Regions from separate parts of the Homo sapiens genome. Here region 1 is linked to region 2. Evidence: fine-mapped expression QTL. A gene starts in region 2. The other region holds a variant in brackets. All regions are shown on one strand. Distances are between the middles of the regions.

Region 1 (10,450 bases), 100 kb after region 2:
GCCAGGCCCTGGGAAGTGCCAGGGTGGCAGGGGGCAGTCTAGTGGAATGAGACAGCCTGGTTTGCCATGTTTCTTAGGACCCACCCTGATGTAGGCTCACATCACCAGCACTCACCAACCTAGAGATTTCCTGTCGCTGTTGACAGGAAGGCTGGATCTGCAGGCCTCCTGGTGGCCATGAGTCTGCACAGACCAGAGCTGGGGTGGAGGCCACAACCCTGTGCCCAGTATCTCAGCTTCTCACTCTCCCCAGCCCCAACCAGGGACACATGGGTTATTTGAAACCCCAGGGGGTCAACTCGGGAGGGATGTTTTAGCTAAAAGCTATGGGGATAAAAAGGAAACACCCCTCACTGGCTCAAGCCTTCAGTTAAATGAACGTGGATGTGCGACCCAGGAACTGTGCAGCAAAGACCTCCAGACCCTCCCCTCCAGAAAGCAGGCAGTCATCCTTGAGCCAAAACGCAGATGAGCTTCCTGTGCTCGAGCCAGGCTTGGCCAGGGAATTGTGTACGCATGCACCCAGGGCAGTGGAGGACTAATCAATCCCTGGGAGTGAGCTGCTCTATGCCAGGACCCATGGTATCCAAGGCCAGGAGTGAGGACTCACGTGCCTTCCTCCACACTGCACCCCCACACCACTACCAAGCAGGGGACTGACGGCCAGCCCTGCTGGGGCAGAAGGAAACCCTTGCCCCAGTGCTACCTGGGAGTAAGGGGGTCAGGGGACCTGCAAGTCATGGACAAAACATTAGGTCACCATTTGTTAGTCTCTCAATACTTTACTGGCCATATCCCCCGATACCCCCACAGCAATTTCACCAACACAGAGCAACTGCCCTCAGCCACTCTGATGTGATGGAGCCAATCCAGGTGTCCTAGAAATATCCTAGAAATGCAGAGCATGGGGAAATCACAGAACCCTGGGAAATGCCATAAGAACCTGGGCTCTGGAAAGTGCCATCCACCTCCCCTCTGGTCAGGCTGGCGGCACTGACAAGGCATCCACAGGGCAGCCATGCTATGGCCCAGACCTCCGGATATGCAGGAACCGGGGCCTGAGGAGACAGGGACAGGGGCTGGTTACCACCTGGGCCTCAGGGAATGAACAGGAAGTGGGAACAGCACACTCTCCTGACAGCCAGGGCTGAGGATGGCCCCAGTGGAAAGACCAGCATGCTACAGGGCTAAAGGGGGCTAGGATCTTACCTCCCACAGAAGTCCCTGCGCACAGCCACAAGATTAAGGTACAGGTCAGGCCGGCTCTGAAGCCAGCTGCTGACAAGCTCCGGGTGCCTTGGGTCCACTTCTAAGAAGATACTACTACATGGGGGAGAAATGGGTGGGCTCAGCAGGACAGGTCTGGCGCCTGCCCTTCTGGGCTGCTTGGGCTGGCGAGGTGAGGGTCCTGTGCTGACCTCTGCCAGGGCCTGCCCAGTACACATTAGGAGCAGAGGAGCCTGCTGGGGACAGACCTAGGAGACCCATCCCATTCATACCCAGAGTCTTTCAGGAGCCGGGGTGCCAAGGCCAGAATGTGGGTAATGATGTCCATGCCCTCCTCCCCACCATCCAGGGCCGCGGGGTCTTCATAGCTGAAAGGCAAAGCAGTGGGAGGTGACAGCCTGAGAAAGGGGTATCTGAAATGCATGGAGGGCATGGGCAAGGCCTCCATGAATGGGGCCCTGTGGAACTTACACTCTGGGCTGAAGGGCAAATCTGAGGACCCAGAGAAGGAGGGCCCCAAATGGGTGGCAGCTCCTCTTCTCTTCCTCCCATGGGCAGCACCCTACCAGGCAGCGCCAGGCATGCTTGCTGAATCCCACTGGCTGATGGCCTCTCTTGATGCACTGACTCATGTCAGGGCATGAGTGTCTCCCCACAGGCTGCTCCTCTTCTTGGTCTGGGAGATCTGGGGCTAGCCCTGACCACTCCTGAGAGCCCAGAAAGGGAGAGCCAACACCCCAGCCCCATCCAACATGACTGCTGCCCCATCCAGGACTCCTGGGCTGCCCCTGGTTCTCAGCCCCTGTGTAAGAGCAGGATGGCCTGGCACAAAGCTAGCCTGGGGCCAGCTTTTAGTCCCGGCTTTCCCACTGAGCCCCCATGCGACCACAGACAAGACACCTTCCCTCTCTGGGCCTCAGTATTCTATAAAATGATGCGCCCATCTACTGAGCACCCTGTATGAGCCCTCCACTGTGTTTGATGCTTTCAAGTCGTCACTGAGTCCTCCCGTGGCCCTGCAGAGCACTACCTCTCTTTTTCTAGAGGCAGGAAACAGGTCCAGAGAGGTTCGGTGGCTGTCCAGTAGTTTTAGTAGGAAGTAAGGAAGTAGGAAGGTAGAAGCTGAATCTAGGTAGGACTGTGGGCTCTCGAGTGCGTCAACTTAACACCATTGCCCATTTCAGCACCAACTCCCCTGTCCCTCCAGATGGTGTGGTCCTCGAGGGCAGACTAATCCCATCAGGCCTTTTCAGGCCTGGCCTCCCTGGCCCACCCTGCTTAGCACCTGCGGATCTCAGGGGCCAGCTGCTCCATGTCCTGGTGGAAGACGTAGGGAGGGTTGCTGACAATCAGGTCCATGGGGCCCCAGGGCAGGTGTGTCCAGCTCCTTTCTGTCGTCAAAGAAGAGGACACACAGTAGGGACTAACCCATTGGGAGGTAAAGGATGATAGCTCCACCTGCCACCATGTCCCTCTCACCATGCCACACCTTGGGCCTGCCTCTGGATCTGATAAGCCAGACCTGCAAATTAGTGCCCAGGGTCCCCAGCTGGCAGCCTGGTGGGGAATGTGCATGCTTTAACATGGCAGCCCCTCATTTCAAGGCATAGAGTGTCCTTGCCAAAAATCCTCCTTATTATGCAAGACTCTGTTCAAGTGCCACTTCCAGGGCGTCCTCCCTGATTGCCTAGGCAGAAAAGAGCCTTTCTCTTCTGTAGCTCCACTAGCCTTATAGCCAACATGGACTGAGAGTACATGGAGGGTAGGCCTGGCCTCATCAGCCAATTCCTGATGGCTCTGACTACTGGTTTCACCCTGTGCCAGGTGCTACACCAAGTATATCACATTCCATGGAGGGGGCACTGAGGCTCAAGGATCCCACGGGTAAGGCAATGGAGCCAGAACTGGAGTTGGAGGCCTGGAGACACTGTAAAGGCTATAGCTGAGCTGTGCAGTGCCTGGACCACTTCCCCTGCCAGGCAGGGGGAAAGGGGCACTCAAGTATTTTGGTCCTGAAGGCATTATTTTAAGCTTTTGCTTATCTGTTGCCAACAAGCAAGCCCTTAACTCATTGGTTGTGAGGAATTCGGAAGTTCTCTGTGG[C/T]TGGTCCCTTATGGGTCAGGTCAGCCTAGGAGGCAAAAGCACCTTGTCTGTCCTCAGCCAAGGCTTCGTTTGAGCTGCCACAAACGTGCACACACACACGTGTATGTGTGTGTGTTGTGTGTGGCTGTGTGGCTGTTGGGGGAGCTCTCCCTCCATCTCCACGGAGTGCCTCATCCACCCAGCAGCACCTGCATCTAGTCTCCCTCTCTCAAGGAACATGCAGGGGAGGGTACCTGAGGTCATGTCGAGGTGGATGATCCAAATCCTGTCCTGCAACCGAAGCCTACACAGACAGGGAGAAAGGGGTAGGCACGGGGGCAGACCCCTACCCTTCACTACAAGAATGAGGTCTTATAGTCAACCCTTCTTGGACTGGCAAGATACTCACTGCCCACTACCCATTCAGAACCCCATGGGACCCATGCCAGGCTACCCCACTGCTTCCTCCTTCTTGGGAGTAGAAATCAGACATTGGTGAGTTTGAAACCTGAAAAGGAGTCAAGATTAGGCCCCAAAGTGCAACTCCCCCACCTACCTCTGAGCATTCTCATGGGTCAGAGAGATAGCAGCTTCCCGCTTATCCACAGCAATGACTCGGCTCTGTCCCAAGAACAAACAGAGGATATGTGGAAGGCAATGCTGAGAGATGCTGGAAGATACTGGGCCTGGGGGACCCTCCTCCAACCCCCCACCAGAAGAGAAGGGAAATACCCAACAGCCTTTTCTTCTTGGCCAAAGTCTAGCCAGATAGATGTGGTAGGCGTTAGAGTCTGTGAACCACAGTGGGCTAGGGGCAGCCCTGTCCTCCCTCATCCAGCTGCTTCCCCTCAAGCGCTCCTAGCAGAGGGATGTGGGGGAAGCACTAATGGGAGGGACAGTGAGTGTCAGTCACAGTCTATCCAGAGTGGGTGGAGGGGCTCACCTGGGGGAGCTGGCTCAGCAGGCTGAGGGAGATGGCTCCTGATCCGCAGCCCACCTCCAGAATGAGGGGGCTGCCTGGGGATCCCACAGCATGGGACCTCTGGGCCACCTCTTCCAGCACCCACTCAACCAGTTCCTGTGAAGCAGAGGGATCTGGATCAGAGTCGGTGCCAACGTGGCTCCTGGGGGTCTTGGTACAGAGGCCTAAGCAGTTACCCTTGTGAACGTAGGAAGGGGAGGTAGCCAAAGCCAGACTGACCTTCATGTCAGCTGGGGCATGGCCAAGTCACCCTGCCCCTCCAGGCCTCAGCTTCCCCATCTGTACATCTGAGCCCAGTTGAGGATAGCCCACCTCGTGGGGATGTGGTGGGGATTAAATGCACTAATCCACACCTGTTTCATGTTAAGTGTTCAATCAACCCCAGCTAAGCCCTTTACAGACATCCTCCCATTCTGTGCTTACAGAAATGCTAAGAACTGGCTGGGCACGGTGGCTCATGCCTGTAATCCCAACACTTTGTGAGGCTAAGGTGGACAGATCACTTGAGTTTGGAGTTTGAGACCAGCCTGGCCAACATGGTGAAACCCCGTCTCTGCTAAAGGTGTGAAAATTTGCCAGGCATGGGCATGGTGGCGGATGTCTCTAGTCCCAGCTACTCAGAAGGCTGAGGTGAGAGGGAGAATTGCTTGAGCCCGGGAGGTAGAGGTTGCAGTGGATCAGGATCGCGCCACTGCACTCCAGCCTGGGAGACAGAGCAACACTCCATCTCAAAAGAAAAAAGCTAAGAACCATACCTGATAGTTCCTGTCCACTCCCTCTGGCCTGACCCTGCTCCCAGAGTTTTTCCTGTATTAATCTGTTAAATCCTCACAAGTGTCCCATGAGGAAACTGAGGCCTGGGGTCAAGGCCCCACCTGAGCCTGGCCTGTGGTTTCATGGTGGCCAAGAATCAGGAGCTGGTGTGTCCCCAGCCTCCTCACAGAGCTGGGCTTGAGAGGCCCCCAGGGAGGCTCCTAGGCCAAAGGGACAGGGAATTCCCTCTTTTGGAGGAGATGGGCCATGGGGGGACATGGTCCTGACTAAGGACCTGAGGGCTGTGGCATACACAGGCATAGGTCAACAGGCATGGGTGCAGAGGGAGGTGCCTGACTGCACTGTACCTGCCCTGGCAGCAGGAGGACATTTTCAGACACTGTCACTTTGGAAACAAGAGGGTTTCAAGCCTTGCCTACCCAGCCACTGCCTGCAAGGACTATGCCTGTAAACCAACATAGGGTAGGGGTAAAGGGTGGAAGGCTCCTGCCGTCCAATGGCCAAAATTTTTCTAACCAGCAGTGGAGTGGGACACCTGAGTAGCCAGGCATGAGACAAGGAAAGGGCAGTGTAGCTCCTTCTCAAAGGCATCCCTTTGGATGTGGGCAGAGAAGCCCCCCAGAGGGTCAGGACTCCTGGGACCCCAGGTCTCAGGAAAGACTGGCTCAGGGAGCTGGGGATGGTGGGCAGCAAGTGGGTGCTTCCCTGATCTGAAAAGAGGACTACCTATTCCAGAAAGCCTTCCTCAAGCCTGGGCCAGGCTCTACCACGGCTTTCTCCACCCTGAGCCTAAGGTCTAGCCTAAGGATGGGGTGTGCCTCTCCCACCAGACGCCATAATAGGAAGACCTGAGGTCTGACTCATCGCAGTGTGTCCCACACTGGCAGGGCTTGGCCCACAGACAAACCTCTTGGCTACTTTCTTTTTTTCTTTTCTTTTCTTTTTTTTTTTGAGACAGAGTTTCGCTCTGTTGCCCAGGCTGGAGTACAATGGCGCGATCTTGGCTCACCGCAACCTCCGCCTCCCAAGTTCAAGCGATTCGCCTGTCTCAGCCTTCCCAAGTAGCTGGGATTACAGGCATGCACCATTGTGCCTGGCTAATTTTGTATTTTTAGTAGAGACAGGGTTTCTCCACGTTGGTCAGGCTGGTCTCGAACTCCCGACCTCAGGTGATCTACCCGCCTCAGCCTCCCAAAGTGCTGGGATTACAGGTGTAAGCCACAGCGCCTGGCCCTCTTGGCTACTTTCTAAGTGATGGGCAAGCTCTCTGTGGCACCACCCTCTGAGTCTCACACCCCCAGGTCTCCCCCACACCCCAATGCCATCAGCCAGGCCCAATGGAGCAGAGGGCTCCAGATCACTCACACCCATTTTCCACATAAGTTCCCCAGTGCTGGGTTCCAAAAAGCATCTCACCCTTCCAGGCCCCCAAACCCAGCAACAATGTTCACCCACCCTGAGGGTGGCAAGTCCAAAGCAGGCAGAACTTGGCCAGCAGGTCCAACCCTCCATGTTCCAAGCCTCTTCTGCACCTAACAAATGATTGCCTGTGGGTGAGGGGGCCCAGTTCCAGCAGGAGAGAGTGTGTATTCACTAGCTCTCACCAGCCCTGTGCCAGGCACTACTGGAGACCACTAAGGTACTTGTGGCAAGCTTAGCCTGCAAGGTTGGGCCAGGTACAGAGTGAGCAGTATAGGGCTGTGGCTGAGAGCCTGTGGTCTCAGTGGTGAGGCCACAAGCTGAGAGGTTGGTAGGGTGACCAGTTGTTGTCAGGTGTGTAAGCCTCTCTTGGTTTCCTGGTCATAGACAGACCTACTCTGGCTGGAGAATGACCCCTCAGCCAGCCACACTGGCCAGCCACCTCACAGAGATACTCAAAGACCTCAAAGACACACACCACGTATGTGGATGGCCACCTTGGGGAGGGTAAGAAGCTAAGAAACTGAGCCCCTGCCACCACTAGTGGCCTCTTGTTTGCCATAACACTCCAGAGCACCGGAAACTCATCTTGGTTGTAGAGCCACCTGGGGCAGGGGTAGATAACAGCCCAAGGAGTCCAGAAACTTTCTCTTCTCCTCCTAGTGAAGAGCCTCCCTCAGCCTAACGCTGGTGGCTCTTTCGGCAAGACTAAAAGCCATGCTGGTCACAGGCTCAGGGCACCCCCTCCAGGTGAATATGGTAAGAATCCAAGAACAGGGTGGGGCACAGACGCATGCGGGAAAGAGGTGAGGGGCAGGCAGTTGTTGGCTCTGCCTAGAACTGCTGCCCCAACATGGACTCCATACCCCATCAAGAGGCTGGCCCAAGGCCTGGGCAGAACCTAAGTGCCCATGAGTACCCTCTATTAGGATGGCATCCCTGGTGGGGCAGACCCAGGGAGGTGGCATTGCCTCCTTCAAGCCAATCACAGACAAAACACTGAGCCTCCCACAACCTGTACAGCCTCACAGCAGGCTGGGTGAGAATGGTTCACACCCCCAGCCCTGAGTTTCCTACTGTATTCACTGCCAGGCCAGGGGCTGAACCACCTTCTCACCCTTAGGGAAAATGCAACTCACTGGGCACATGCCTCCTGCAAGTTTGCACTTCAGACTCCCCTTTCATCAGAAACCATCCCCTGCACCCATTCTCACTACTCCCTGCCACAGGCCACGTCCTCTTGAGTTCTTGGTAAGGCATCCCCCGATGTGGCTTTACATTGGGGTGAACCTGGTGAGTTCTCAGAAATGTCTGCACAGCAAGATGAGCACCTGGCCTCCCAATCGCAGCATCTCCCCTCACCCCACCCCTTGCAGTAGAGCTGCTCTCTTGGCCCAGACCCATCCAAGAATCAGGGGGCCACATGGGAGCCAAAGTCCACACTTGATACTCAGAACCCTGGCACATATGGCTGGTGCCAGGTCAGCTCTGAAGGAACTCAAAAGTCACCATGCCCTGACCCTGGGAAGCCGGAGACAGCAAATGATCTCTTCGCCAGAGATCACGTGTTTTCAGGAGCCACAGGTAAGCCTCCCAAAGTCTGCAGGTGGCAGGCCACACCCTGCTCTGGGTCTCCATACTGTGTCCTAGGTCATGCCAATCCCAGATGGGGCAGCCCCATGTGAGGGATGGGGCTCTGAGCTGGGAGTCAGGAAGTCCACGTGCTGCCCCCATGCTCCCTTCCTTGACAGCCCTGTGACTTCAGCAAGGCCTCAGATTCCCTACTGTCCCTGCCCTGACACTGGGCAGTGAAGCAAGGACCTGGCCTCCCAACCACATGATATGGAGAGGAGAGGGGTCAGAGAGTTTCTTGGCTAGGGGACAGAAGCTGAGAAAGTGAAAGAAGGGTTTGGGGCCCCCTGGCCACAGCAGGGGAATGGGAACTAACCTTTCCCAGAAATGTTTGTGTGCCTAGGTCTTTCTAGAAACACTCCTTCTCAGAACCTGGCGCCCTCTGGCTTGCCCACCAGCTCTCACCCAGCTCTACTCCCTGGTCTGCGCCCTCTGGCTCCCAGCTCTGTCATCTACAAGGTCAGAGGGGAGTCCAAGAAGGGCCATATAAAGCGTCTCTTCCAGGACCAGGGTGCCTTACCAAGGGATAACACACTTGCGCCACACATCCCTAGTCCTAGTAATTTGAGGGACAACACAGGTGATTACCAGACCAGTCAGTAGACCTAAGAGGGCCACCAGATTCTCTGGGCTGGAGGGCTAACCCTCTCATCATCTGGGCCCAGAGATGGCAGGAGGGCAGTGACCTGCCCAAGGTTGCACAGCTGATACCAGGTCTCCAGGTGTCCGGCTGGAGCCCTCTCCACTTCCTCCATGCCTCCTGAGAAGCTGCTGGAAGACATTTGTTCCCTGTGGGTTGGGTGAGCCATGGGATGGCTCCCAGAGAAATGGCAGAACAGGCTAAGTACTTGGGCAGCACTATTTGAGGCACTCTGGGCCATTGCCAGACCTAGAGGCTGGGTTGATAGCTTGGAACATAACAGTCAAGGGGACCAACAGGAATCCTCTGTCCTCTGGGCTCTGCCAACACAGTCAGAGAGGAAATACATGTCTAGAAAGGCACTGTCCCTGAAGTCATGGGGCCCCAGTGCCCCCTGGAGGAAGCCTGGGGTAAGACTGGTGCCCTGAACTCCACCATCATCCTGATCCTGCCTTGCCCTGGTGGCACACCTACCTCTGTTTCTGGCCGAGGAATAAACACTGGGGGCACCATCCTTAGGCTGAGCCCCTGGAAGTCCCACTCTCCAAGGATGTACTGCACCGGCATCCTGCAGAGGGGGCAGCTGGGTGGTCATCAGGGACAGAGCTAGGACCAACAGGACCATGCCTGGGTTGAGATACCACTTGTGGCCAAAGGTATCAGGCAAGACCATGTCTCCAGGGCCTTGGGACTCCTGAGGCAAAACCCTCCCTCCCTCCCTTCTTCCTATTCAGTACCCCGGCCCCACTCTTGCCACTCCTGCACCCCAACACCTCCCTAGTCCTTGGACATTCTCCTCCTCCCTGAACTTGGTGGGGATAGGGGAGGCTGGACTGCTGCTCCCTGAACACATCCTTCAGGTCTGATCCATGGGTGCTCACCTCTGCAATCGACGGCTACTCAGCTCCCGGATACACTGTAGTTGCTGAGAGGTCAAGGGCTGGGTCCAAAGTGCCGGCCTCAGGCTCTGAAACTGTCCCCACAGAGAATATAAGTGGCTGGCTCACTGGGCCCAAGGCCCCCAACCCAGGTGTCTTATGTGGATAATGCCTGCCCAGCACTGGTCTGGAGGCCCAACCCTCTCATCATCTGGGCCCAGAGGGGGCAGCATCCTGCCTAAGGTTACACAGCTAACACCAGGCTTCCAGGTGTCTATCCCAGAACACTTAGGCAGAGATATATTCATTCATCCAACAAACTGTTACAGTGTGTGCCAGGCGCTAAGACGTTCCTTCAGAAAAATCCCATCAGTCTCAGCTAAGCACTCTTAGTGAACAGAAAACCTGGATATCCCTTCCCCAAGTCCTCCCTCCTCCCTCTTCCTGTCCTCTTGACAACACTAAACTTAACTGTTTTGGCTCCAAGGACATGAGCCACGATGTACTCACTGGATTCCCGGGCCTCAGGGATACCCCTCTTCTCAAAGACCCCAGTCCAGTGGCTGACCAGTTCTATGGCACTGGATAACCCAGCCAGAGGTGGTTGGGGTTGCCATGAGCTGAAGGCCCAGCCCCGGGTACTTCCCCTCCTCCCTGGGCCAGACAGGAGGGCCCACAGCATTCGGCCCCAAAGCTCCATGTCTCAGGGAAAGGTTCTCCAGAGTGCTTCCAGGTTCCCAAGTCTGCTTTATGATGTCAGCTGCTGAGGTGAGTGCTGAGAGTGGCCCCTGGACCCAGCTGGGTGGAGATGGAGAG
Region 2 (10,455 bases):
AGCATAACATTGGAATTAAAATCCTAATATAGCATACCCAATAATGCTTACATGTTGGGAATAATTTCAGATCATTCTTAAAGAATAAAGACACAAAAATTTTAAAAAATTCAAAATACAAACTATTAAAAATTAAAATTTAGCACCAATGTAAAAATATGCTATGAAGGTTAAAGTACTTTCAACCTCAATGACCATTCTTTTGAGACTGCCCTGCTTCAGAATGCATCTAATACTACACAGAAATAGGTGCCATGTTTACAATTTAGCTTAATGTTTCTAAATCATATTCTAATACTGCATGATAAAACGAACTAGAAATCTGAAGTCTACTGAATAGACTTAAGATGATTAAAAACTTAAACATAAGACCCAAAACTATAAACCTACTAAAAGAAAACATAGGGAAAATGCTTCAGGACATTGGTCTAGGCAAAGATTTTATGACTAAGACCTCAAAAGCACAGGCCACAAAAACAAAAATAGACAAATGGGGCTACATTAAACTAAAAGCTTCTGCACAGCAAAGGAAAAAGAGTAAAGAGACAATCTACAGAATGGGAGAAAATATTTGCAAACTATTTATCTGATAAGGGACTAATATACAGAATATACAAGGAACTCAGCAGCAAAACCAAATAATCCCATTAAAAAGTAGGCAACAGGCTGGGCACAGTGGCTCATACCTGTAAACCCGCCACTCCCCAGGAGGGAGGGTCTCTTGAGGCCAGGAGCTCAAGACCAGCCTGAGTAAAATAGCAAGACCCAGTCTCTATAAAAAAAAAAAATTAAAAATTCGCTGGGCATGGTGGCATGGACCTGTTGTCCTAGCTACTGGAGAGGATGGCTTGAGCCCAGGAGTTCAAGGTTACCATGAGCTACGATCATGCCATAGCACACAAGCCTGGGTGACATAGCAAGACCTCGTCTTAAAAAAAAAAAAAAAAAAAAAAAAGCAGGGCACGGTGGCTCATGCCTGTAATCCCAGCACTTTGAGAGGTCAAGACGGGCAGATCACTTGAGGTCAGGAGCTCGAGACCGGCCTGGCCAATATGGTGAAACCCCGTCTCTACTAAAAATAGAAAAGAATTAGCCAGGTGTGGCGGCGCACACCTGTAATCCCAGCTACTCAGAAGGCTGAGACAGAAGAATCGCTTGAACCCAGGAAGCGAAGGTTGCAGTGAGCCGAGATCACCCCATTGCACTCCAACCTGGGCATCACGGCAAGACTCTGTCTAAAAAAAAAAAAAAAGAAAGAAAAAGAAAAAAATAGTCCAATACAGAAATAAAATTCCTTAAATATAACTATCCAGTTTAAATTGAAAACTGCAGAGTATGTCTTATCTTTCAAGCCACAGTCATATACTACTGACAATTCCTTTCAGAGGACACGGTGTAATAATACAATCTGTGGCTTAGAATCTCAAAGTCCTAGGTTCAAATCTCAACTCAGCACTTACTATCTAAAGTATCTTAGATCAGTTACTTAATTTCTCTCAGCTAAAGCTTCTTTCTCATCTGTTTAAAAAAGAGGGGAGAGGTGGTGATATAGTGTAAAGCTCAAGTAGAATCATGAATAAGGAAGTTCCCCATAAACACTAAACAAGACATCAAGCACATCCTCACTTTTCAGAACAAAATAAAGTCATAGGTCTATGAAATCTTTCCTACCCCTAGTGGATGATGTCTTTACCTCTAAAGGGGTATTGGGGCCCTTCCAGAGGTTGCAAAGGTTGGGCTTCCCTCACTGAATAAATAACTAAAGAGCACACTGTCTTCAGACTATTTTGGTGAGTTCTAGTCCATTTACCAACAGATTTACTCAAATTTTGTGAACACTAATTCTTCCAGATCTGGTTTCAAGGATCTATTTCCTCCCCACCTTCAGATTCTTTTCCTGCACCACAGGATCTTTACAAGTTTCTTTTAAGGACTCAGGATTTGTTTGTTTGTTTGTTTGTTTGTTTTTAAGTGCTTTTCTTCCCTATCTGGAGAAACCTAACCAAAAGGAAGTTAGGTAAAAATAATGCATAAAATACGCATTACTTTTTAAATAGGAAAAAATAAATATAACATTACAAAACTAAAATGTAAGGTCTTCAGATTGGTAATGAGAAAAATTTTTCATGTTCTACTAAGAGGGATTAATAAAAAATAAGCAATAAATGCCCTAAATTACTCAAAAATTTGCCTTAGCTGGGCACAGTGGCTCACAGGTATAATCCCAGTGACTTGGGAGGCTGAGGTGGGAGGATAGCTTGAAGCCAGCAGTTTGAGACAAGCCTGGGCAACATAGCAAGACCATGTCACTAAAAAAAATTTTTTTTAATTAAAATTTAAAAATTAGCCAGGCAAGGCTGGGCGCAGTGGTTCATGCCTGTAATCCCAGCACTTCGGGAGGCCGAGGCGAGCGGATCACAAGGTCAGGAGATTGAGGCCCTCCTGGCTAACATGGTGAAACCTCATCTCTACTAAAAATACAAAAACAAAATTAGCCGGGCATGGTGGCGGGCACCTGTAGTCCCAGCTACTCGGGAGGCTGAGGCAGGAGAATGGCATGAACCTGGGAGGCAGAGCTTGCAGTGAGCCGAGATCACGCCACTGCACTCCAGCCTGGACGACAGAGCAAGACTCCGTCTCAAAAAAAGAAAAAAAAAAATTAGGCAGGCAAGGTAGTAAACACCTGTAGTCCCAGCTACTTGGGAGACTGCTGCAGGGGGATCGCTTGAGCCCAGGAGTTCAAGGCTGCAGTAAGCTATGATCATGCCGCTGCACTCCAGCCTGGATGACAAGAGCAGGACCCCACCTCTCAAAAAAAAAAAATTGCCTAATGACAGCAGCAGAATAAACAAGATGACCTTCTGAAGCAGCTTCCACTTCTAAGACGTCAAACTAATACCTATGTACTCAAACCTTTACCACTTTTCTATTCAAGGAGTGTAATTACAAACATTTTTGTTTTAAAAACTGTTGGTGCTTGCTGCTCCTGCTGTTGCTCCTGTTAGAGGGTGAGAAAAGCATTTTCTTGGTTTTTGTATTCTATATTTGGTACTCTGGGTACAGTCAGTATAGGGAAAGACAGGTGTTTCACAAAAATAGCTGGATTTTTCTCACCTAATACACTTTAGAGCAGGAAGCTTCTTGGAAAGGTAGAATAAAGAATGGAAGGATGCAGGACTTTCCAAGCATTCATGGCAACAGAAAGGAAAGCAGAGATTCTCTAAGAGGGAAAGGGACATAAGAAGTCAAAACACGGGCGAACGGGTACAGTAAAGAACAGTACCTTACAGTACCACAAAAAGAAAGCAAGACAGTCAAGTATTTCACAAAATACTGCCCACTGCCAAGAAGAAAATTAAGAAAAATATACAATCGTTGAAGGACAAAAAAAAAAAAATTAACAACCTTTGGGATCCAGTTTCTTTATCTGTGTAATAATGATAACATTAAGACTACTCTGGGAATCGACATGGGGTTACCTAAGTGAGAGTCCCAGGCACACTGACAGGCCTATCACTGACCCTCAGAAAGGATAATGTCCTCCCCACTGCCTAAAATCACTCACAGAATATTACAATGGAAAGGGGGGCTCAGTCATCACCTCATCCTAAATGAATAAACCAAACAATTCAGTCATGTTATAACCTGTACAGAATTCCTATATTATAAAAAATTTAATAAGTATTACTACAGGATCTCAAAGCCTTATCAATGTCAAATACAAATGAACAGCTGCAGTGGAAAAAACCCTTTGTACTGCTGCAACAGGGGACTCCTTCCCTCACTAACATCAGGGCAAAAGGAGGCCCTCGAGGCCCTCCTCCACAAATTTCTCCAAATTGGTAGGAAGTAAGTGTAAGGGGTTTCCCTCCTTGCTATGTGATTATAGGTTGACAAACAAAGACACAAATCTGTGCTCCAAGTTAGTCATAAAAATCAAAGCTGAAACTCAAACATTTTCTCACAGGAAAATGATAATGGTTATATTTTCAAGCTAGCCCTCATAGCAATCAAATGATGCAGCAAAAATGCCGTTTTAATTGACTATTTTTCTCATAAGTATAATGTATAAGCTACTTTATAAAGTGGATTTTATGAAAAGTTCTAGAAGTGTAGCCCTAACATCCTTATGAAAAAAAATGTGTCCTGAGTTTTAAACAATTTACACAAAAACTTTTAGATCATAACTAAGGAAGGGACAGTGGAAGACTGTGAGATAAATAGAGAGTTGCTTGGTTTGGTAGAAAAGGCATCTAAGTTATGCTAAACCACAGCTGCTATGAAAATGTCTTCAGTGTAACTGTCTCTCTCATTTAGCAAGCATTAAGCTCTGCCCTGAGCCCAATGCTGTGGCCCTCCAAAGGGAATAACAATTTTTCTAAAGCTAAAAACACAATCCTAGGAATGCAAGAATTTCGTTGCATCTTGCTGGGAAAATCACACACCAAATCCTAGTGCTTTGAGATTCACATGTACCTATCTTGATTACCTTGCACTGGCTCTGTCTCAGAACACACTTAGTGTTATTAGTCTAAATACTAAGGGAAAAGAAGAAACTATTAAGCATTCAGCACGTTCTCATTTCACTTTCACAATCCTGTAAGATAGGTAAACATTATCCCCAATTTATACATTAATAAAATGACGTTAAATGATGTTAAATTACTTGCCCACACCACCAGTAAAGAGAAGCTAGGACTCTGAATTCCACTTTGTCCACTATTCAAGGGCTCCTCCCCCCACGCCCCCACCCCCGCCAAAATAGGGCTCCTCCCCCCTCCAAAAAAATCAATCATGGGGTGCCACTGGAGAGTTGACCACTCACATCAATTATTTGTTATTCTAGTTCAGCAGTTCTGGGAGCGAGTTATGGAGAAGATAAACCACCAACTCCTCACTTCACAGAATCAACTCAGTATTCAGGGAATACTCTAAGAGAAGGGGTAAAATGTCCCTAGAGGTGAATCCCAGCTCTTCGCATCATTTCTCAATTCCTTCTCAATAGAGACTCTAGGACCAGAGCTCCCTTTATCACCTCCATCCTAACATACCTAATTGTTTCAGAAAGTTACCTTTTAAAACAAGATCTTCTACCAGAATAGAAGACCTCTCTGCTGGTCCTCGAATTTAAATAAATTCAATTTTCACACGATAACCTGCCTGATAGCATTCCAAAACATTCGTTACCACTGCAGTTTCAAGTTATTTTGTAGTGAATTGTGAACTAAATCTTGATTAAATTGCGGTAAAGATGGGAAACAAAAATCTATGTTTAGACAGGTTTCCTATCTAAAATTTTCCATTACGAGCTTAGGAAAAACAAAACCTGTACACTCAACATTTTAAATCTGTTTCTAACTGAACAAGATGATAGGTGATGCAATGAGGCTTAACTCTATCATGTAATTGCCACAAAACACTAACATTGTAAAACATTCAATACTTTAAATTACTGAATATTCTTTTTAAAGAAGTTGAATATTGTAAGAATTATTTAGCTTCTGGAGTTTAACACTTACAACATTAAAAAAAGGTTTCTAAGAGGAATAAGGTCTCATCTGAAAACAGGGTTTAAAAAAAAAACCGTATAAACATTGATACATGTCCAAAAACATTTCCCATCGTAAGGTATTATTTCTAATACTAAAGGCAAAACAAATTAAAACAGATCAAACATTTGCAGTCAAATGTCCAAATTTTTGAACTGGGAAAATGATGTCAACGTTTTTCATCCGTTTTCTTGTAAGGTTCCAGATCAAAAATAAACAGCCATCGGGCTCATCAATTCAGGTGCGGAAACTCATTAAAATCGAGCTTTTGGAGGGGAGAAAACATATTCCCAGAATTTGGTTTATCGGGTAAAATTGCCCCGTGGCCCACACCAGAAACCTCGGGCAACTGCCCGGGCCTTGCCCACCCCTCCCGCGGGCCGCACCTGCCAAGGCCGCACCGCCAGCGCCCCCTGCCGCCCTCTCTGCACAGAGACCCGCGCCCACCCCCGCACCCGCACCCGCACCCGCACCTGCCCCCACCCCGCGCTCGCCCCGCGCCGAGGCCGCGCAGCCTGCGGGCAGTGGCGGGGGCACGAGGATGCGAATCCAGGCGGGGCCGGGAGCTGGGCGCGTCCCCCAGAACCCCCGCCACGGCCAGGCCTGAGCCTCACCTACCTACGCCGTATTTCTCCTCCTCCGTGGGGGTCCACATGGCCGTGCCGGGCGCGGCCCCGCGGGCGCGGCGACCGGGCGACAACGCGGCGGGGACGGCCGCGGGCCCGGCTGTGGCGCACCGCGAGTCGAGGCGGGGACGGTCAGGCGGCGCGGGGCAGTGGGCGGCGCATCCCTCACAGGCCGTCCGGGATGCCGCCGCCACCCCCGCCACGTCTGGACCGCGAGGCTCCGCGGGTGGCCCAGCAGCCCCTGGCGGCGCGGGCGAAGGCTCGCCACCTGTCCGTCGCCGCTGCTCCCGTGCCGCCGCTTGCTTCTTCACAGCTCCGCCGCCCGGCTCCCGGCGCCGCCGCGGCTCGGCTCGCCCCAGCGGGCTCGCAGGACGCCCGCGCATGCGCCACTCCCTGCCGCGCAGGGGCTCGCGCTGCCCGGGCTCGCGCCGTCCCGAGCCCGCGCGCGAATCCACGCGCCGCTGCTGCGCGCCAGCGGAGGGAAATCCGCGAGAAGCTATTGGACTGCCCGGCCCCGGACCGGCTTCTAGAATCGCTGGTCCGGGGCCCTCAGCTGCAGCAAACCCCGGAGGGGGCGAAGCCGGTCAGGTGGGCGACTCCCTCTACCCGGACTCCCCACTCGCTTCCGCTTCCAGTGCCTCCTGCCTGCGCCCCGAGATGGCCACAGGCCTCCTGGTCGGAGAGGGGAGATCCAGAAAAGGAGGACACGACACCATTTTCAGACCCATCCCAGTGTCACCCACAGTGCTGTCGGAAAGGTCCCCGGAGCCACCCTGTGCATTCCCAGGGCCCGCAGGATGGAGTCGCCACGAGGGAACCAGGTGGGGTGCACTCGTGCCCCTCTCTCCTGGATCCCCTGTGGGCTGAGGCCGCTGACACCTCCTGGGTTCTTGCTTCTCTGAGATGGCCTGAGTGGTGAATGTTTGGGGCCAGAACAATCAACAGCCGCCTTGCTAGTAAGGAAGAGCTTCATTGGGCCCTTCGTGTTCCTACCCAGGACACGGCATCTGCTGCTCCTGGGTGTCTGCCTCCCTTGGAGCCCTAAGAACTGGCTCCTACCGGAAACTTTCCTCCTCTCTCTCCTCCCTAAGAATCCATTCATTCTGATGCCTGTAAATGTCACCTTGTGACCCCCAAGTCAACCACTTACCAAAGAACAGGAACTGCAGGACTTCTCCTTTCCACCTACATTTGGACCACATGCTCTAATCCCAGCAGATTTGCCCATCTCTGTCACTAGCACTACTAAGTCAAAACCCTGGTGTCATCCTTCACTAGCACTCTCAGACACCACCACTCTTCAAAGCCCAGCTCAGCCCCTCACCTCCAGGAAGCCTGCCCTGACCCATAGTCTCCTTTCCTTCTTTGTCTGGAATTGGAGCTATGTTCGGTTTGTCTTATTTCCCTTATAAGACTGTCAGCTCCCAGAAGGCAAGCTCCAGGCTAAAATCAACTTTCTAAACCCTCACCACCAACCCAGCACCTGTTGTATAGTTGTTGCATGGGAAGCCAGACTAATAGAAGAATATCTTGCAATCAACAGATCTTGTTGATTCTTCGTTCAAAGTGTCATGATTGGTAACTCCTCCCAGGCCTGACTGTGCTCCCCTGGGTTATGGCCACCCCTTCCCACCTTCGGACCTTTAGGCTCCTCCTCTCACTAATCATAGCTGCCCACTCCCGCCCAGAAAAATGTCTGTTCTGTGAATGATAGAATTTCTCAATAGCCAGGTACACTTCTTTTTAGGGGTAGCAGGGGTGTCCAAGAACATAACGAAAGAGCTAACTGTTCCAAGAAGATAGACCCCTCCCCGGTGGCCACCATGGAAGTATTCTATGGAATGAAGCCACATTCTTACAAAACTCTCCAGGTAGCTATTCAACAAGTGGGGCTGAGCTACGCAGGCCTTCAGGGAACAACCTTAAAGCTCTTATTTCATCCTCTAAGTTCACTCCCTTGTCTGCTGTATGTGATGACAGTCACAGAGCCTAAGGGCCAGTTTTTCCAAAGTTTATACTCTTGTTCCCAGTCTGAATCCATCTTAGATTATGGCTTTCCCAGATGAAGAAAATTCTCCATGATTGCACACCTCAGCTCCAGGGTGGAAGGGCATTAAACCCAACCAGGGAAGGGAAAAGAAGGGACCAAAGTGAGAAGGAAGGGACTTAGTAAGCCTGGACTCCTACACTCTTGCTGTTTGTATAAATTTAGATTGTTTTTGTGAGTTGAAGCAAAAGGGCATAGCACACATTGGCCTTCAGCAGGACCATGCACCTGCTCTCTTATCCCCCTAGCATCTGCTCTGATCCTTTCCTTCCTCAGGCTCCCAGTCCACTCAACACACCACACACACACTCTCTCAGCATATGAGCTGCCTTCCAGCTTGCCTCTGAAAATCGAGACCCTCAGCACAGTAACCTCCCCTCCTCTCCAACTGCTCTTCTTTGTGTTCTCGCCACCACCAGGCTCACTGCCTGCTACTTCTCAGGATCCCCAACTATCATTGCCCTGTCTCCCATTTTCACCCTGACCTGCTCCACAGACTCCTGCGGTCCCAGGAAGACCTGCCCTGTTGGTACCCTCATCCCCCCATTCCCTCTCTCTTCCTCCTCTCTCCATCTGACTACAGAGGAGAATCATCCATTCCAAATCCTTTTATTTCAATGTAATTCATTTGATTCTCACCACCTGAAGGTCTGCGTTCTGACCCTGTCACCTCCTGGAAACTACTTTCCCAGAATTCCCCAGGGCCATCCCAACTTCAGACCATTGCCTTGTTCTGGCTGGGTTTTTGCATAGAGTGTCCCTCAGCTTGTGTCCTCTACTCTTGAAACCCACACATCTGCATCATGCTTCAAGAGCTGTCTCAGGGCCACTTTCCTGAAGAAGGCTTCCCCAACTGCCCTCAGTTCAGCTGGATTTTTTGCACCCATTATGACCTTTTCTGTAGCACTTACTCATTCCACCCTTCTCCAAGAGATCAAATGGGTCTGCTTCTCACATTGGCAAACATCTGTTTTTTTCTTCAGTGACAAGGATTGTTCTTCAATTATTTTTACCTTACACAGAGACTAACATAGTGCCTACCACCTAACATGAATTTAACATACACTCTTGGGTGAATAATCTCCCTGTACGTTTTCTGAGACCATAATGAAATAGGTTGGAAGAGAGAACTGAGATGTTTACCTCAGCAAGTCACAAATCGGCAAACTCAGAAACTCTAATTAATTAAATTTCTTTGTTATAGACATATTGGTTTTAATTAAAAATTCATTGCAATGTCTTATTGAGTAGCTATAAAAAAGATAAACATGATAGAGCAATTTAAAAAACAAAGTATGCAAACAGTTTCACTTATCATGTCACTGTTACTTTTGGGTTTAACTCATTACCTTAGATGATAAATTGCAACTCGATGAGCAAGGAAGGAATCAAGTTTTCTGCAGGAAATTCGTTAAGACTGGTGGCTGTTAAAAATAGCCGATACCCAAACAAATTTTATAAATAATTTACAAGAAATGCAGACAGCATCATCTTTTTCTCTTAGAGTTTAAGTTGATCAATAATTTTTTATCACAAGCAAACTCCATAATGGTAAATCCCCCATCACCTTTGGTGAATGATACTGGCCCTCTACAAAGCTCGATGAGATACACTTCATATCTTCTCTCCTTGTTTTCTGCTGCCTAGAGAATCACACAGCAGCATTTAAGGAGCCAGCCAGTCTGATGACTCAGCTCATAAAACAATGTGTGGCCACAAAGATGATGTTTATCCATGAGCATTCTGGAGGCTCTTGCTACTGAAGTCGGCAAGCAGTGGATAAGTGGCACACGATGCTCATTCTCAAGAGTTTCTGGCAGCGGTGCCAACACAGCACTCACTTCCCTCTCTCAGCAGTTGATTTCATCTGATGCTCTGTCCAAACAGAATGGTAGAAAAAAACATCAGAGAAATGCAGTGGGTATAGAGGCAAATCCAAACAAAGTGCAGGTGATAGTGGTGACATTCTGCCTTCTCTTGATCAGAAGGTGTCAGCAGCTGGAGCTTATCCCCATATGAACCCCAGGGTCAGGTAAATGGAAGACTTAAGAACACGTTACCCAACTTACCTCTGCCCTTCTGGGTTCCTCAAGGAGGGGGTCTGCTGTGGTTAGTAAAACGTCTGCGGAGCTAGTTTCCTTCATGGCAGAGAGATGCGCAAGCTAGTCTCACTTCACCAGCACCTCTTATTTACCCCAAAGCAACACCTTTTAGGAAGCCTCCTTTCAGGAGG

Evidence for each region. PIP is the estimated chance that this variant, and not a neighbour inherited with it, causes the effect.
Region 1: its variant is the best candidate, but not a certain one, in a credible set for the expression of DOCK3 in coronary artery (GTEx, PIP 0.70).

What each region holds. Positions count from the first base shown.
Region 1 is chr3:50,570,989-50,581,438 of GRCh38, reverse strand. HEMK1 (HemK methyltransferase 1, mitochondrial release factors N(5)-glutamine) reads right to left here. Exons shown (of 11, transcript NM_016173.5): 2 at 10,107-10,450; 3 at 9,638-9,729; 4 at 9,231-9,324; 5 at 4,253-4,387; 6 at 3,866-3,930; 7 at 3,564-3,613; 8 at 2,513-2,618; 9 at 1,500-1,595; 10 at 1,210-1,323; 11 at 1-1,058. The coding sequence starts at 10,334. The coding sequence ends at 1,022. It also overlaps a transcript of C3orf18 not described here. Among named protein-coding and RNA genes, the nearest start is that of HEMK1, 6.7 kb to the right of the region's middle. The variant C/T (reference allele first, on the strand shown) is at 3,331.
Region 2 is chr3:50,671,013-50,681,467 of GRCh38, reverse strand. It overlaps DOCK3 (dedicator of cytokinesis 3), which reads right to left and starts at 6,541. Exons shown (of 53, transcript NM_004947.5): 1 at 6,168-6,541. The coding sequence starts at 6,204. It overlaps LINC02019 (long intergenic non-protein coding RNA 2019), which reads right to left. Exons shown (of 2, transcript NR_183733.1): 1 at 10,292-10,455; 2 at 9,417-10,097. MIR4787 (microRNA 4787) reads right to left here and starts at 6,388; the gene lies at 6,305-6,388. RefSeq lists a silencer at 6,288-6,577.